Regions from separate parts of the Homo sapiens genome. Here region 1 is linked to region 2. Evidence: fine-mapped expression QTL. A gene starts in region 2. The other region holds a variant in brackets. All regions are shown on one strand. Distances are between the middles of the regions.

Region 1 (5,206 bases), 75 kb after region 2:
GATACCTGTATTCATATGTTTATCACAGCACTATTCACAACAGCAAAGACATGGAATCAACCTAAGTGCCCATTAATGGTGGATTGGATAAAGAAAATGTGGTACATATACACCACGGATTACTATACAGCCATGAAAAAGAATGAAATCACATCCTTTACAGCAACATGGATGCAACTGGAGGCCTTTATCCTAAGCAATTTAATGCAGAAACCGAAAATCAAATGAACTATCATGTTCTTACTTATAAGTGGGAGATGAACATTGGGTACACTTGGACACAAATATGGGAACAATAAACCCTGGGGATTCCAAAAGGAGTAGGGGAGGGAGGGGAAATGGGTTGAAAAACTACCTATCATGTACTATGTTCACTACTTGGGGGATGGGATTCTTAGAAACCCAAACCTCAGCATCATATAATTTACTCATGTACCAAACCTGCAAACATATCCCTTGGATCTAAAATAAATAAATACACAAGTAAAATACATTTTGTCGGTTGTTTTGCTACTGGTAGTTCATCTCCCACATCTAACTGACATGTATGTGGAAATCACTTCATAGCATGAGTTTATCAGCATTCTGAATAATTTATTCCTCCAATCTATCATATTAGTAATATTTCTGCTGAACAAGTTGGCAGTTTATCCAATACACCACTTTTGGTGGATATAGTCATTTGAGATGGAATTTTAACAATGTTCACTACGTGAGTTAGAATATTAATAAAAGAGGCCAGGCACAGTGGCTCACGCCTGTAATCCCAGCACTTTGGGAGGCTGAGGCAGGCAGATCACCTGAGGTTATCAGAAGTTCGACACCAGCCTGGTCAACATGGCGAAACCCCGTCTCTACTAAAAATACAAAAACTAGCAGGGCGTGGTGGTACACACCTGTAATCCCAGCTACTCAGGAGGCTGAGGCAGGAGAATCACTTGAACCTGGAAGGCGGAGGTTGCAGTGAGCTGAGATCGCACCACTGCACTCCAGCCTGGGCAACAGAGTGAGATTCCATCTAAAAAAAAAGACTATTAATAAAGGAAAGGCACTTCACCTACAAGTCAATAAAATAGATGTAAAGAAACAATAAGACACTTCTGCTCTGAATCACTGAGACCACCCAGTGGTTTCCCAGCTGTGTGCATTATGATACCAAACCATGCAGTCATTATATGACAGACGTTCTATAATCTGTTGTTAAGAGGAAGAAGGCAATCACTTCCAGTTGGAATGATCAAGAAAGTCTCCATAGAGGGAGCATTTGAGCCACATTTAAAGCGTAAATAGGATTTTGGTTGACAGCACTGTATTCAAAGAAAATGACATGGCCAAAATCGTGGAGGGAGGAACAAGCTAAGCTGGGAAATAGGGAGGCATTGACACAGCTGGATTAGGTAAATTTAAAGTGTGCCATATACGACTTAAAAGTCAGCCTAAAGTTTTGGATTATATTTGTCACAATATGGGGAATAATTGAAGGGTTTTGACCTAAGTGTGTGTCTAATTGTTTGTGGCACTGTCCCAGGTAGAGATACACAAGGAGAATTACCCATCTCTATTCAGATCCATTGGCAGAGGTCACTACATATGTAAAAACAAGACCAAAACCAAAACAAAAACAGGAAAAAACAAGGAAAAATAAAGCAATAAATTTGAATAATTATTAGGTTGGTATAAAGTAATTGTGGCTTTTGCCATTACTTTTATGGCAAAAAACCGCAATTACTTTTGCACCAACCTCATAAGCTATATCATTGGTAAAGTATCAATGATATATTTTTAAAAGTACAATTAGGGATAAAAACATAATTTGATAACCAATCTCACTAGAACTCAAGGAAATGCAAATTAAGATCACAATAAGATAACATTTTACACCTCCTAGATGGGCAAAAATTAAGAAATCTGACAATGGTTGATAGAACCACTAGACAAAAAAATCAGCAAGTCTATAGATCTCAGCAACATCATCAACAAACAGGATCAAATCTATATTTATAGAACACTCCACCCAATGACAGAAGAATATACATTCATTACAAGTACCCATGAAATGTATACCAAAATAGACTATATCCTGGGCCATAAGACAAACCTCAATAAATTAAAAGAATTAGAATCATACTGAGTGTATTCTCTGACCACAGTGGAATGAAACTAGAAATCAATAACAGAAAGGTAAGAGGACAACAAGATAACACTCTTCTAAATAATCCATGGGTCAAATAGGAAGTTTCAAAAGAAACTTTTTATAAAATGCCTTGAACTAAATGGAAATGAAAGCACAATATATCAAAATTTGTGCTACAGCAGTGCCAAGAGGGAAATTTATAGCACGAAATGTTTCAAAACTTTCACCACAAGAACCTAAAAAAGAAGAGCAAAATAAGCCCAAAGCAAGCAGAAATAAGAAAATAATATTAAGAGCAGAAATCAATGACGCTGGTAAAAAAAA[T/AT]AATAATAATAAAGCAAACCACTGAAACAAAAAGCTGATTCTTTGAAAAGATCAATGAAATTGATACACCTCTAGCAAGACCAACAAGGAAAAAAAGAGAGAAGACAAAGGACACTAATATCAAAAATGAAACAGGGACTATCACTAGAGAACTTGCAGATAACAAAAGGATAATAAAAGAATACTAAGGACAATGAAACACACATAGATTTGACACCTTAGATCAAATGGACCAATTCCTTGAAAAACACAAACCATCACAACTCACCCAATATGAAATAATTTTAATAGTCCTATTACAGCTAAGGGATTTGAGCAATATAAAGAATTCAGCAGTGTATATATATAAATTCGCTAGGTGCAGTGGCTCACACCTGTAATCCCAGCACTTTGGGAGGCCGAGGTGGGTGGATCACCTGAGGTTGGGAGCTCGAGACCAGCCTGACCAACACAGAGAAATCCCATCTCTACCAAAAAAAAAAAAAAAATACAAAATTAGCCAGGCTTGGTGGCGCATGCCTGTAATCCCAGCTACTCGGGAGGCTGAGGCAGGAGAATCGCTTGAACTTGGGAGGTGGAGGTTGCAGTGAGCCGAGATCGCGCCATTGTACTCCAGCCTGGGCAACAAGAGCGAAACTCTGTCTCAAAACAAAAAAGAAAAAAAATTTATAACTAAGCAGAGTGTATTCCAGGAATGGAAGTCTGGTTAAATTTTTGAAAATCAATGTAATCTACCATATTAATAGTCTAGAGAGGAAAAATCACATGATCATATCAATTGATACAGAAAAAGCATTTGAAAACAAAATCAACAATGATTCATGATAAAAATTCCCAGAAAAAGTAGGAATGGAGGGGAACTTCCTCAATTTGATAAAGGACAGCTACAAAAACCCCACAGCTAGTATTATTATACTTAATGATAACAGATGGAATGCTTTCTCCTCTAAGATCTGGAACGAGGCAAAAATGTCCACTCTCAGAAGTTTATTCAACATAGTGCTGGAAATTCTAGTTGGTGAAATAAGGAAAGAAAATAAAAGAAAAACTGTATAGATCAGAAAGGAAGAAATGAAACTGTCCTATTTGCAGATGACATGATTGTCTACACAGAAAATCCCAAGGAATGCACCAAAAACTCCTAGAACTTACAAATGAGTTTAGCAAGGTCACAGGATATAAGATACACCTACAAAAATCAGTTGTATCTCTCTATACTAGCAATGAACATGTGGACACATAAATAAAAATACAATACCATTTGCAATCACTCAACAAAAAGTGGTTGAGTGTAAACCTAACAAAACATGTATAGGACTTATTTGCTGAAAGCTACAAAACATTGATGAAGGATGTCAAACATATAAATAAAGAAGAGACACAACATGTCCATGGATGGAAGACTCAATCTGGCCAATTCGCTCCAGATTTATACACATATTTAATGTAATTTCTATCAAAATCCCAGTAAGTAAGTAAAATCCCAAAATACATATACACAAGATTATTTTAAAATGTATATGGAAAGGCAAAGGAATTAGAATAGCTAAACCAATCTTGAAAAAGAAGAAAGTAGAGAGACTCAGTCTATCCAATTTCAAGACTTATTATATAGCTATAGTGAAGACTGTGGGATATTGGCAGAGAGGTAGACACACAGATCAAGACCACACAGAATAGAGAACCCAGAAGTAGACTCACACAAATATGGCCAGCTGAGTTCTGTCAATGGTGCAAAAGCAATTCAAGGAGGAAAGATAAGTCTTTTCAACAAATGGTACTGGAACAATTGAGCATCCATGGGTAAAAGAAACAAACAACCAGCCAGGTTTGGTGGCTCATGCCTGTAATCCCAGCACCTTGGGAGACTGAGGCAGTAGATCCCTTGAGGCTAGGAGTTCAAGACCAGCCTGGCCAAAATGGCAAAACCCCGTCTCTACTAAAAAAACAAAAATTAGCCATGTGTGGTGGTGCATGCCTGTAATCCCAGCTATGTGGGAGGCTGAGGCATGAGAATTGCTTGAACCCGAGAGGCGGAGGTTGCAGTTTGAGCCTAAATCGGACCACTGCACTCCAGCCTGGGCAACAGAGTGAGACCCTGTCTCAAAAAAAAAAAAAAAAAAAAAGTAAGGAACATCCACCTAAGTCTCACGCTTTATGGAAAAATTAACATGGGTCACACACTTAAATATCAAATATATAACTGAAGCATTTAGAAAAACTAGGAGAAAATCTTCAGGATCTAGGGCTAAGCAAAGAGTTCTTAAACTTGACACCAAAAGCATCATTCATTTTTAAAAATGGATAAATTGGATTCGTTAAAATTAAAGATTTTGCCTTTTGAAAGATGTTGTTAAAAGGATGAAAAGACAAGCTATAAAGTGGGAGAAAATATTTGCAAACCGTGTATCTGACAAAAGATTAGTATCTTGAATATATAAATAACTCTTGGCTAGGCATGGTGGCTCATGCCTGTAATCCCAACACTTTGGGAGGCCAAGGCAGGAGGATTATTTGAACCCAGGAGTTCAAGACTGGGCAACATAAAGAGACTGTATCTCTACAAAAAGTAAAAAACAAAACAAAACAAAACAAAATTAGCCAGGAGTGGTGGCACACAGCTATAGTCCTTGCTACTTGGGAAGCCGAGGTGGGAGGATCACATAAGCCCAGGAGATTGAGGCTACAGCAAGCCGTGATTGCACCACTGCAATCCAGCCTGGGCAAAAGAATGAGACTTTGAAAAAA
Region 2 (5,195 bases):
TCAATGTAGTTGTGGCATCACAAAAAATAACAATGATAGCAACTAATGGAGTGGTGGAAAACAAAGAGCCTACACTGACCCACTTCCTGTTTACTCTTACTATCAGTAAAGTCTGGCTACTGTTCCCAGCACTAAAACAGAAGCCTCTATTGTCAAATATACAGGGTATTTCTCTGTCCTCATCTTACTCTACTCCTCAGCAGCATTCGGAATCCCTCACTTGCTTACTCCTTCCTTCTTGAAATGCTTTCCACCCTTCACTTCTGCAATACCACTCTCTCATTGGTGGCTACTTGTCAGTCTCCTTGACTAGCTCCCCTTCCTCTTTCAGACTTCAAGAACATCTGCTCCTCTCTCTGCACTTGCCTTGAGTGATTTCACTTCCTCTCATGGTTTTATCATCATTATGCTGAGGCCCCCATTTTTTTTCTTTTTTTTGAGATGAAGTTTCACTCTTGTCTCCCAGCTGTAGTGCAATGGTGCGATCTCGGCTCATTGCCACCTCTGCCACCCGGGTTCAAGTGATTCTCCTGCTTCAGCCTCCAGAGTAGCTGGGATTACAGGTGACCGCCACCACACTCAGCTAAATTTTGTATTTTTAGTAGAGATGGTGTTTCACCATGTTGGCCAAGCTGGTCTTTAACTCCTGATCTCAGGTGACCCACCCACCTTGGCCTCCCAAAGTGCTGGGACTACAGGTGTGAGCCATCGAACCCAGCCTGAGTCCCCAATTTTTTTTTTTTTTTTTGAGATGGAGTCTCGCTCTGTCACCCAGGCTGGAGTGCAGTGTCACGATCTCGGCTCACTGCAAGCTCCGCCTCCCGGGTTCACACCATTCTCCTGCCTCAGCCTCCCAAGTAGCTGGGACTACAGGCACATGCTGCCATGCCCAGCTAATTTTTTTGTACTTTTAGTAGCGACAGGGTTTCACCATGTTAGCCAGGATGGTCTCGATCTCCTAACCTTATGATCTGCCCACCTCGGCCTCCCAAAGTGCTGAGATTACAGGCATGAGCCACTGCGCCCGGCCCCCAATTTTTATCTTTAGCTTGTAATTCTCTCCTGAGCCCATGACTCATGTTTAAAAATTATGACATCTTCATTTGGATGGGATTAGGTTTCCCAATATGCCCCAAACATAAATCTTTATTTTCTCCCCACAAACCTATTCCTTCTGCTGACCTCCCCACCTCCACCTCAGACCTTGGTCTTCCCTTATCTCAGTAAACCAGCACCACCATCTTCCCTATAGCACAAGCTAATAATCTGAGTCATCCTTGACTCCTCCCTTTCCCTTGCTATCCACATCCAATTCTTCAGTACTTACTGTGGATTCTCTCTCTAAAATGTATCTTGAATCCATGTATTCATCTCAAACTCACCTGCTATCATCATAGTACCAACAGCCAACATCTCTTGCCTATATACTGCAAAAGCCTCCTAACTAGTCTTGTAGCTTCCACTCTTCTCCTCCACCCATTTGCCATACAGCAGCAAAATGGTGTTAAAATGGATAGCATCATGCCTATCCATTTTTGTGTAATCCCAGGACTTTGGGAGGCCAAGGAGGGTTGATCACTTGAGGCCAGAAGTTCAAGACCAGCCTGGACAACATGGCAAAACTCTGTCTCTATTAAAAATACAAAAAATTAGCCAGGCGTGGTGGGACACACCTGTGATCCCAGCTACTTGGGAGGCTGAGACAGGAGAATTTTTTGAGCCCAGGAGGTGGAGGTTGCAATGACCTGAGATCATGCTATTGCATTTCAGCCTGAGGGACACAGCCAGACTCAATCTAAAAAAATAAAAAAATGAAAATAAATTTTAAAAAAGCCCTTTAATGAATCTGCATTGTGCTTCAAATGCAATCCAAATTCCTTACTGACCCACCTCATCTATCCCCTGCAAACCTCCCCAGTTTTGTTTCATGCCTTTCTCTTTCTAGCTCATCAGGCTCCACTTAGCTTTTTGGCAACTGAAATGTGCCAAATTCTAGCTTGTCTGGGGGCCTGCAACCTATCTGTTTCCCTAACCAGCATACACTCACCCCCTTGCTTGGGTGGCTCCTTGTCTTTTCAGCCTTAAGTGTCAGCTCCTGGGAGGATTTCCCCCTGAAATAAAACCCCCCTTAATCCTCTATTATTAGTCTCTAGTTTCCCACGTAATGGGTAAAACAGTTTGTAACTGATTTTACGTGTGTATTATTATTTTAATTGAGACGGGGTCTCACCACATTGCCCAGGCTGGTCTCAAACTCCTGGGCTCAAGCGATCCACCCACTTCGGCCTCTCATAGTGCTAGGATTACAAGTGTGAGCAACCACACTCGGCCATGTATTTTTGTTTGTTTGTTTGCCTCTCTCCCCCATTTGTGAATTTTTTTTTTTTTTTTTTTTTGAGACAGGGTCTCACTGTTACCCAGGCTGGAGTGCAGTGGCTTGATGTCAGCTCACTGCAACCTCCACCTCCTGGGCTCCAGCGATTCTCCCACCTCAGCCTCCCGAGTAGCTGGGACCACAGGCAAACGCCACAATCACCGGCTTTTTTTTTTTTTTTGTAGGGACGAGGTTTCACCATGTTGCCCAGGCTGGTCACGATCTCCTGGACACAGGAGATGCGCAGCGCCCGCCTCGGCCTCCCAAAGTGCTGGGATTACGGGCGTGAGCCCGCGCCCGACCTCTCCCCGATTTGAACGCGTTTCGAGGACCGCTTCCCACAAAGAGTGGCATCTCAGCCAGGAGGTGAGAGCCCCGAGGGGAAAAACAGGCCAGCCAAGGGGAGTGAGGGAACGATTCCAGGAACTCAGAAGAGCAAACAAAAGCCTTGTGGAGATAGCTTACCGCTACTGAATCAGGAAAAAAAAATCGGTATGTCTGAGGTTAAATAGGGAATAGGGAAATGAGGGGCAAGGTCATATGGCCATAAACAAGGGTCTGGGCGGGGGATATGGGGTTTCGTCCCAAGGGAGGAGAGCAAAGATAACACGAGGGGAAAGGACGGGGGCCTCCCTGCTCCCTCTGGTCCCGTATCGCCCTCACATACGCGGTCAAAGTCCGGGGCGGAGAGGTGGCAGTGACAGTCCACCAAGCCTACGCCAGCCGCTCGCATTGCGCCCCGGCGGCTGCCGCTTTAGACCGGCCAGCAGAGCCGGAGCCGGAACGTTTCAGCTGCAGCGTCCTGAGTTTCCAGCCGGATGCATGCTGGTTACACCAGTGTGAACCCGCTTTTCCGCTCCCAGAGTGCCCCGCCCACAGTTCCGACGAAAAATGGCGGGGTCTCCTGAGTTGGTGGTCCTTGACCCTCCATGGGACAAGGAGCTCGCGGCTGGCACAGAGAGCCAGGCCTTGGTCTCCGCCACTCCCCGAGAAGACTTTCGGGTGCGCTGCACCTCGAAGCGGGCTGTGACCGAAATGCTACAACTGTGCGGCCGCTTCGTGCAAAAGCTCGGGGACGCTCTGCCGGAGGAGATTCGGGAGCCCGCTCTGCGAGATGCGCAGTGGGTACGGGACCAGTTAGCCAGTTCTTTACTCATCATCCTCTTACCCAACACCCAGGATCTTAGGATTCAGAAAGATCCCACGCCAGGCCTTGGCAGAATTAACGGTGCCCCAGGCTACTGTAGAACCAGTTCGAGAAACGCTAGAGGAGAAAGAAATAGATGCTAATGTCAGCTGGGTCTTATTAATTACTTAGACCAGCGCTGTCCAGTGAAAATACAAGGCAAGCTAATCTTTATGTAGTTTTAAACTAAAAGTAAGAAATAGGTGAAGTTAATGGAAATAAGACATTTTGTTTAACCCAATAAATCCAAGGTATTTTAACATGTAATAATATCAAATGAATGAGATATTTTACATTCTTTTGTTCGTACTAAGCTTTTCAAATCTGGTGTGCTGCATTTACGGCACATCTTCGAACTAGTTACATTTAAGCGCTCAGTAACTACAAAGTGGCTAGTGGCTCACCTGTTGGACAATGCAGCCGCAGACAATGAGGAATTCTCCTGGAAAGGGTAATTCTGGAAGTCAGCCATTCACCCAAGCAGCATTTGATCTTTCCTTTTGCATGTTTTATTTATTTATTTATTTTATTTTATTTTTTTTTTTTGAGACAGAGTCTCGCTCTGTCGCCCAGGCTGGAGTGCAGTGGCGCGATCTCGGCTCACTGCAAGCTCCGCCTCCTGGGTTCACGCCATTCTCCTGCCTCAGCCTCCTGAGTAGCTGGGACTCCAGGCGCCTGCCACCACGCCCGGCTAATTTTTTTGTGTTTTTAGTAGAGACAGGGTTTCACCGTGTTAGCCAGCATGGTCTCGATCTCCTGACCTCGTGATCCGCCCGCCTTGGGCTCCCAAAGTGCTGGTATTACAGGCGTGAGCCACCTCGCCCGGCCTATTAACCTTTATTTTTACTGTTTGCACTGTGGTCATTCATAACTCACAAATGTGCGGTATTATGAGCTTTTAAATTTTTTCCGCTAATATAAGTAGATTGGTGCCTGTTATAAGGAAGCACACAATCCCTTTATTTCTTGTGTTCCCAAAAAACTACCACCTTCAGGGCTTTGCAAAAATATTTAAGAAAGGCTTGGGAAATGTGGTATAGAGGCAAATGTATGATCTTAGTAAAGTTTTCAACCAACACAATTTTTTTTAACCTATTTTAGTCTTGTAAAGAAAATGTTTTCACTCTAAAACAGGCAAAAGGGGTCGGGCGCGGTGGCTCACGCCTGTAATCCCAGCACTTTGGGAGGCCGAGGCGGGCGGATCACGAGGTCAGGAGATCGAGACCATCCTGGCTAACATGGTGAAACCCCGTCTCTACTAAAACAATAATAATAATAATACAAAAAATTAGCCGGCCATGGTGGCAGGCACCTGTAGTCCCAGCTACTCGGGAGGCTGAGGCAGGAGAATGGCGTGAACCCGGGAGGCGGAGCTTGCAGTGAGCCCAGATCTCGCCACTGCACTCCAGCCTGGGTGACAGAGCGAGACTCCATCTCAAAAAAAAAAGGTTCAGTGGAAGAATGAAGAAACACTTCCTGGGTTGTGACTCTGTATGTAGTTTTGTATATAGTGACTCTTACGTCATTCCCTCCTTGCAAGCAAGGCAAGAATAGGGATATATCTCAGGACGTTTTTAGTAGTTTTTTGGGAGAAGACTTTTGTTGTATAATCTTAGAATTTGTCTGATTCTAGGA

Alleles and levels. Alleles are on the strand shown, and positions count from the first base shown. SD is a standard deviation of normalised expression in the study named.
For the expression in NK cells of the gene that starts at base 3,252 in region 2, allele AT in region 1 goes with a lower level than allele T (moderate effect, 0.45 SD a copy in Gilchrist 2021).

Evidence for each region. PIP is the estimated chance that this variant, and not a neighbour inherited with it, causes the effect.
Region 1: its variant is the best candidate, but not a certain one, in a credible set for the expression of NSL1 in NK cells (Gilchrist 2021, PIP 0.60).

The regions. Positions count from the first base shown.
Region 1 is chr1:212,714,741-212,719,946 of GRCh38, reverse strand. No RefSeq gene overlaps it. Among named protein-coding and RNA genes, the nearest start is that of BATF3, 18 kb to the right of the region's middle. The variant T/AT (reference allele first, on the strand shown) is at 2,459.
Region 2 is chr1:212,789,834-212,795,028 of GRCh38, reverse strand. NSL1 (NSL1 component of MIS12 kinetochore complex) reads left to right here and starts at 3,252. Exons shown (of 6, transcript NM_015471.4): 1 at 3,252-3,499. The coding sequence starts at 3,266. TATDN3 (TatD DNase domain containing 3) reads right to left here and starts at 3,135. Exons shown (of 10, transcript NM_001042552.3): 1 at 3,042-3,135. The coding sequence starts at 3,107. RefSeq lists enhancers at 74-123, 464-533, 412-912, 3,047-3,326, 3,801-4,579.